Linked DNA regions of Homo sapiens. The protein of the gene in region 1 purifies or fractionates together with the protein of each later gene. This does not show direct contact. Each region holds a gene or a part of one and is shown on either strand. Other genes may lie near its edges.

Region 1 (3,917 bases):
AAAGGAAATGACACAACTAAAAAGAATTTCTATCCCAAAAGAAGTCTGCCCTCCTGCCCTCCAGTTAGGTGTCCTCTGGAATAAAATGTTGAATCCACTTAAGAATTATTGATAAATAAATTCATAAACATGTAAAAAATCATTTTGGTGCCAACTGAATGTTAAATACACACACATAAACACATACCCCAAATCAAATAAATATAATCAAATATAAACCAAAGTAATATAATCAAAGTAATAGAAATGACATTTATCAAAGTGACATAAACGATAGTGATGAAGTTGCTGGGAAGCAGAAAGGACTTGTAGGTATTATGGCACTAGCCAAGAACTATCAGGTAAGTATTCATAGATGATATAAGTGGAGAGCTAAAGGAAAATAAAAGGAAGACTTTCCATGTGAGGGAATGATATGCTTATTAATTTGGGGAAAATAAAGTATATAAAATATAAGTACACTTGCCTAACTGAATCTGGGAACATCCACGTCCAGCCCTATTATTGTTTATATGGTGAAATTTCACCATTTCAGAACAAGTAAGATTCTTTTTTAAATTAAATACTGACAACCTCTAGGTAGTTCTCCAGTTTTAAGTTACTCTGGAAACTGAATAATAATGTTATCATTTAGAAAAAATGCATTTATTAATTGCCTTTAGTGATCATACATTGACCTATGAAATAATGTTTTTAAAATTATTTTTAAAGACATGTTTCTTGAAGTCTTACCATGAGCTGTGTAGTTTGTACAGTTAACTGGTTCTTGCGTAGCGTCATTTATTTTTGGATCTTTACAAATATATGTAAAAAAAAAAGTTAAGGAAATACGGACTACATTCCAACACAACACATTATCATGCCTTTACTATTCATATTATATACTCATGTTGATATTCACATGTAAATAGAGGCTGCTAGTTTGTCCAAGTCAATAAGCATATGTACAAATATACTTTTAGTATTGCTAAGTAATACTTGAGGCAGGAGGATCACTGGAGCCCAGGAGTTTGGGAAGAACAGCCTGGGCAACATAACGAGAAGTCTGTCTCTACAAATAATATAATAATACATAAACATTACAATAAACCTTTAAATTTGCCCCATAATTATCCACGTTTTTACTCATGAGAAAACAGAGTTCAAATAGGTCACCCAAGGTTGCAAAGTGCAACAGAAATTTATCCACTGAGTCCCCACGCGGTGGTTCATGGTGAGGGGGATGCGGATCGCTTGAGACCAGGAGTTCAAGACCAGCCTGGCCAACATGGCGTAAACCCCGTCTCTACTAAAAATACAAAAATTACCCGGGTGTGGTGGCGCATGCCTGTAGTCCCAGCTACTCAGGAGGCTGAGGCAGGAGAATTGACTGAACCCGGGAGGCGGAGGCTGCAGTGAGCTGAGATCGTGCCACTGTACTCCAGCCAGGGCGACAGAGTAAGACCCTGTCTCAAAAAAAGAAAACAGAAAGAAATTTGTCTGGCAGTCTACCATCTCATGAAGTTTGAAGATGACATGAGGTAATATGCATAATATACATAAAGTTAATGATAAATGGGCAACACATTGGCTAGATCGTTATTACTTGTCTTCCCCCTAGGAAGAGTTGGCAAACATTTCCAGGGTAAGAGACTATCCATCTTTGTATTACTAGTGTCTAGAACGGGGCCTGGCATACTTCAGGATCTACATGTTTTACTGAACAAGTAAGCACACTGATAAAAAAGAAAAAAAAAGTGGATCAGAAGAGGAAGCGCCAATGACTAGTAAAATCATAAGGAAATCACAAAGGGTGGCCTCTGGCCCTCCCATCTCCACAACTCTGTTCACCTTCAGGGATCCTTCAGTCATTAGAAGCCACAGATCAGATTATCGTTTTCACTCAGTACAGCCCTAGCCAGTCCTGACGGCAGCGACCCACCTGCGACCCCAACTCTACCTCGCCTCCATGGGGGGGTGTTCTCCACAGAGGATATTGTCCCACTTTGAGGTCCTCGCACTTAAGCGACTCCTCGCCCCCGGCGGAGGTGGCAACAGCCCCCCAGGGTCCTGTAGTGACTGAGACGAACCACAGGACACCAACGAGTCTGGCCGTCACGGCCTCCGGAGCAGACGGACCAGACGGCCAGGCGGCCGCCATCTTGGAGACCGACACTTTCTCGCCACTTCCGCTTCCGCCTCCGCCCAGGAGCGGGAGGGAGAAGGGCAACAGGGCGAGGTTCTTAAAGGGACCTCGCATAGGATAGAGGCCAGTTCCGTCTCTTCGCGTGTTCTTCTGCCCGTGAGCCCGTGGAATCACATTGGGAGACCCTTTTAAAATATGCATGTACCCAGTCCCTCGAGGCGAATTTTCCCCCACGAACCCTTGGAAGGAGCTAAGGTTAATCTTTGAGTGCTGGAGGAAGGAAACGAGTGGTTTAGGCAATCAGGTGCTTCACCCGCTTCTCATTCCCGCGCCCTTAGCTGAGGCTTCTCGGTCCTCTGAAAGTGCCAGCGGCGTCAGAGGTTGGAATCAATGCTTTCCTGACATCATCGCAGTTAGCCCTGATAGGTTTTGGGTTTACAGATAAGGAACAAGGCTCAAAGACGCTGAAACACACTGACCTTAATCACTAAGTGACTCAGTCGGAATGAAATTGATGTTTGCCAGATTTCAGATCTATGCTCTTACTAATTGACATAATGTCCTCCTGTAACTTTAGAGAAGGATTTTGGAAGGCTGCCACGAACAGAACTTAAAAACTGTGAGAGACATTACGCCTTTTAAAAAAAAAAAGTGACAATTTAGGTGGGGGATAATTTGGGGGGTGGAAACTGTAACAAGAGGAAACCAAATAGTTTATGATTAAGTGAAAAGTTGAAGATTTTTTTTCCTCCATCTGTTGTTTTTAAATTTCTATATGTTCTAAAAGTTCTGTGGTGGGGAACTTTAACAGTGAGGAAAAAATGTTTTCGTAAAGTTAAGTTTAATCTTTTTTTTGTCTAACAATATAAAAATTTGAACTTGAGTGGTGCTTCTTCATCCATACTTTAGCACTAACTTTGGTGGTTCTCAAACTTTGAATAGCATCTGAATCACCTGTAGTAGTTATTAAAACAGAATGATAGAACCGGCACTCAGAGTTTCTGATACAAAAGATGTAGGGAGGGACTGGATAATTTCCATTTCTAGGAGATCCCAAGGGATGTGGGTGTTGCTAGTCCAGGGACCCCCACTTTGAGAACACTGGTATAATGTTTTACGAGAAGTAAATTTTTTTTTTTAAGATGGAATCTCTCTCTGCCACCCAGGCTGGAGTACAGTGGCAGAATCTCAGCTCACTGCAACCTCTGCCTTCTGGTTCAAGTGATTCGCCTGCCTCAACCTCCTGAGTAGCTGGGACTGCACGCGTGCGCCACCACGCTCAGCTAATTTTTGTATTTTTAGTAAAGACAGGGTTTCACCATTTTGGCCAGGCTGGTCTCGAACTCCTGGCCTAAGTGATCTGCCCGCCTCTGCCTCCTAAAGTGCTGGGATTTCAGGTGTGAGGCCACACTGTGCCTGGCCTCATTTTGGAATATATATTCTGGAAGACATACAACTATTTGAAGTAATATTTAAACATAAACTACGTTTTTAAATTTTCTTTTTTTGAGGTGGAGTTTCACTGTTGTTGCCCAGGCTGGACTGCAATGGCATGATCTCGGCTCACTGCAACCTCCGCCTCCCAGGTTCAAGCTATTCTCCTGTCTCAGCATCCGGAAAGGCTGGGATTACGGCGCCCACTACCAGCCCAGCTAATTTTTGTATTTTTAGTAGAGACGAGGTTTCACCATGTTGAGCAGGCTGGTCTCGAACTCATGACTTAAGGTGATCCACCCGCCTCTGCCTCCCAAAGTGCTGGGATTACAGGCGCGAGCCACGGCGCCTGGCCCTA
Region 2 (3,917 bases), on another chromosome or scaffold:
TTCAGGGTCCTTATATTCTGTGCTCTCTTGGCTCTGGCACCAGGCCTTTTCTGGTCCACTGTTTCTAACTCCTGGTAAAGTGTTGTTTTAAGGCAAAAAACATCTTTACGGGGAACCAGACATAAAAAGAGTTCCTGGAGGCCCTGCGTGGTAGCTCATGCCTGTAATCCCAGCACTTTGTGGGGCTGAGGCCGGTGGATCACTTGAGGTCAGGATTTCAAGACCAGCCTGGGCAACATGGTGAAACCACACCCCTCCACTTCTCTACTAAAAGTACAAAAAATTATCCGGGCGTGGTGGTGGGCACCTGTAAACCCAGCACTTCGGGGGGCCAAGGTGGGCGGATCACTTGAGGCCAGGAGTTGGAGACTAGCCTGGCCAACCAACATGGTGAAATCCCATCTCTACTAAAAATATGAAAATTAAGTGGTGGCTTGCGCCTGTAGTCCCAGCTACTGGGAAGGCCGAGGCACGAAAATCGCTTTAACCTGGGAGGCGGAGGTTGCAGTGAACCTAGATCGAGTCATTGCATTCCAGCCTGGGCGACAGAGCGAGACTCTGTCTCAAAAAAAAAAAAAAAAAGTTCCTGGAACCGTTTCTGCACATCACTGAAAAATGATAGCCTCTCCCCAAATATCCTAACTTAAAGGTGCTATTAGGAGAATCTTGCTGCCTGCTAATAATGGGGTGTCCATAATTACCCCATGACTTCAGTGAATTCTCGTGCCTGTTTCTCCCGATCTAAAATGGGTATATTTCATTTACTAAATTTACTTCTGAGTACTGTTGGGGAAAAGATCCCGGTGTTTGTTGAAGAATGCTAGATATAATGAAAGTTAAACACAGTTTAACAAATTAAAATTATTCCCTATTGCTCTGTAATATCTAATTGCACACTGCTCTACCCCAGACCATTGTATTATCTCCCCGCCCCCCCCCCCAGAATATCATGAAATGCAACATATTTGCTAAACCAGTTTTGGTGATTTAAAACAAGTTCCAAGCACAAGCTTCTTTCTTGTAATGGTCAAGTGGCCTACGAAACCAAAGCGCCAACTGAGAACGTTTTGCTGCTGCACTCTGAAATCCCAGCGAGAACGCAGGCAGCGATGGCAGTTCTGGAGCACCGGGTTCCACTTCTGCCTCTGACCGGCTTTGTGACTTCCACCACATTAGATCTGAGTTTCCTCCATGTAAAATGGGGCGGGAATGGAGGCTGGACCTGGGAGGTGTCGCTGATGATCGTCTCTGACTCGCTAAGTCGCGGAGTCACAAAAGTGGCGGAAAGCATGCCCTCACTTTTTGGGAAGAGTAGGACGAGGGGCGGGGCTGCAGCGAGACCCACCAGTCTCGCTTTCCAGGGCAGGCGGCGGCCAGGAGCTACAGCTGTGGGCTGCACTCCCGGCGTGGAGTCTCCTTCCTGCCCGCGCAGGCCCCGGCGCCCCAGCGAAACGCTCCGGCCGCTCCCCTCTCCCAACACTCTGGTTCCCGGGCCGCCTGCGGGGACGCGGTTGGCGGCGACACCGGAGGGGGGTGGGTCAGGAAGTGGGGGCGCGGCGGCCAGGAGCGGGCCCCCGGAGGCCGAGGGGTTCGGCGACGCGGAGGGAGGGAGAGTCTGGGCCGCGCGGGAGCCGCAGGGCGCCCTAGCCTTCGCAGAAACGATGGCGGAGGAAGAAGGTGATTGCCGCGGGGTCCAGCGCGCCAACGGCTGCCAGTGGTCTCGGGAAGGAGGGGCGGGGGCGCTGGAGGTCTGGGTTGGAGCTGCTGGTGGCCGCGGTCGCGGTGGCGGCCGCGCGGGCAGGGCGGGAAGGAGCGCGGCGCCCAGGAGAGGACTGCGGAGAAATTCAGGAGAGCGGAGCAAATGGCCCGAAGTTTTGTCGGCCGAATTGGGAAGCAAAGGTGGAGCTGAAAGTTGGGAATCCGTAGCAAGAGAGAAAGCTGTGCCGGGAGTGGTTGGGAAAGAGGGAGGGTCCTGATCAGATTCTTGGTGAAGTGGGAGGCGCAGTTTGGTTTCGAAGATCAGGTTTAGGTACTCAGTGCATATTTGGAATGCGATTTTTAAAGGGCTGTGGATATTGACAAACCCAGAGGCACAGGGGGCGAGGGAACATTCACCACGGGGATAAAGAGGCAGGGATTTGGGATAAACGTGGCAAGATTAATTGGGAATGGGCGAACACGCAGAAACTGAAGAAAGCCAAGTTCACTTAGGTTCAGGGGAAAATGGTAAAGAGCAGAGCCATCTAATTATTATAGTTTTGGGAGATGATGAGGCCAGGAGGCCTTTGAGGGTCAAAGTGGGTGAGCTGGAGAAAGGTTTCCATGCCGCCTTCAGGATCAATGCTAAGATAAGTAATTCATTCAGCAGTATTTTATTTATAGAAAATGATAAGTATGAGACAAAAATGGGAAGTTAGATGAAACTTATCGGTTAGTGATAAACAATACAAGGAATACTCATGGCATAGTAACTTCATGATAACCCCTACTAGTTTCAGGAAGTGAGAAGCAATTAGATTTTTGCATTCTGGTGGAAAACACAACTTTTTACCTTATGAGTGGAGCTGTGGATGTGATAGTAAATCGATCTAATTTAGACTCAAGCCCCCCTGCCTTTTTTTTTTTTGAAACGGAGTTTCGTTCTTGTTGCCCAGTCTAGAGTGCAAAGGCGCGATCTCGGTTCACCGCAACCTCCGCTTCCTGGATTCAAGCGATTCTCCTGCCTCAGCCTCCCTAGTAGCTGGGATTACAGGCATGCGCCATCACGCCCGGTTAATGTTATATTTTGAGTAGAGACGGGGTTTCTCCATGTTGGTCAGGCTGGTCTTGAACTTCTGACCTCAGGTGATCCGCCCACCTCGGCCTCCCAGAGTGCTGGGATTACAGGCGTGAGCCACGGGTCCAGCCGACTCAAGCCTTTCTGAATCAAGAGTGCAAGGAAGGAGTTTAAAGGATTCAGCGGAAAGCAATTTTTAAAAATTAAGCATAAGAAGTGTTTACTGATGTGTGACTTGCTGACCTGTCCCTATGCAGGCTTGGTTCATATTTGTTTCCATTGAGTTTTCAGAGTGTTAAAGCTGGTCTGAATTTAAGACATTCTAACTAAAAACAGCTTCAAAAACAAAGCTATTTGTCGTTGGTGAGAAAGAATGTAATTCCATTTGTTTACTTGGTTCTGTCTGTGGTTACAGTATATCATCATTTGAAATATTTCTTGATGTATTTTTCTTTTCTAATTGCAAATTTATGGGGGTAGGTTGATATACTAGCTTGTAGGTTCCTATGAGTACATTCATGCTTAACTTAAAGCATTAAAAAAGTTAAGACTGCATTAAAAAATCAGTACTACAATACTGAAAGTCTTTAATACATCATGCAAAATGAAAAATTATTTTAGACTATGGTTGTACTTAAATAGATCTGTGGAGCCAATATTAAAAGATTGTACCGTTTTGTAAATTTTACTTACGTGATGTAAAATGATAAATGGGCGGGGCATGATGGCTCATGCCTGTAGTCCCAGCACTTTGGGAGGCCAAGGCGAGTGGATCACTTGAAGTCAGAAGTTCGAGACCAGCCTGGCTAACACAGTGAAACCCCATCTCTACTAAAAATACAAAAATCAGCCGGGTGGAGTGGCAAGTGTCTGTAGTCCCAGCTACTCAGGAGGCTGAGATAGGAGAATCACTTGAACCCGGGAGGCGGAGGTTGCAGTGAGCCAAGATTGCACCATTGCACTCCAGCCTGGGTGACAGAGTGAGACTCCATCTAAAAAAAAATAAAATTAAGGCCGGGCAAGGTGGCTCACGCCTGTAATCCTAACACTTTGGGAGGCCAAGGTGGGCGGATCACGAGGTCAGGAGTTCGAGACCAGCCTGGCCAATATGGTGAAACCCTGTCTCTACTAAAAAATACAA

Evidence for each region.
Region 2: the proteins of TM2D1 (region 1) and DPY19L4 purify together in Homo sapiens (affinity purification with mass spectrometry; one large-scale study listed by BioGRID and IntAct). This does not show direct contact.

What each region holds. Positions count from the first base shown.
Region 1 is NC_000001.11:61,722,981-61,726,897, forward strand, and holds the start of TM2D1 (TM2 domain-containing protein 1 precursor), read right to left. Parts: upstream 2,162-3,917; 5' UTR 2,141-2,161; coding exon 1,977-2,140; coding exon of another isoform or gene 1,940-1,976; intron 1,450-1,939; coding exon of another isoform or gene 1,308-1,449; intron 807-1,307; coding exon 733-806; intron 1-732. UniProt on the Homo sapiens protein: May participate in amyloid-beta-induced apoptosis via its interaction with beta-APP42.
Region 2 is NC_000008.11:94,718,338-94,722,254, forward strand, and holds the start of DPY19L4 (probable C-mannosyltransferase DPY19L4), read left to right. Parts: upstream 1-1,562; 5' UTR 1,563-1,661; coding exon 1,662-1,677; coding exon of another isoform or gene 1,678-1,899; intron 1,900-3,917. UniProt on the Homo sapiens protein: Probable C-mannosyltransferase that mediates C-mannosylation of tryptophan residues on target proteins.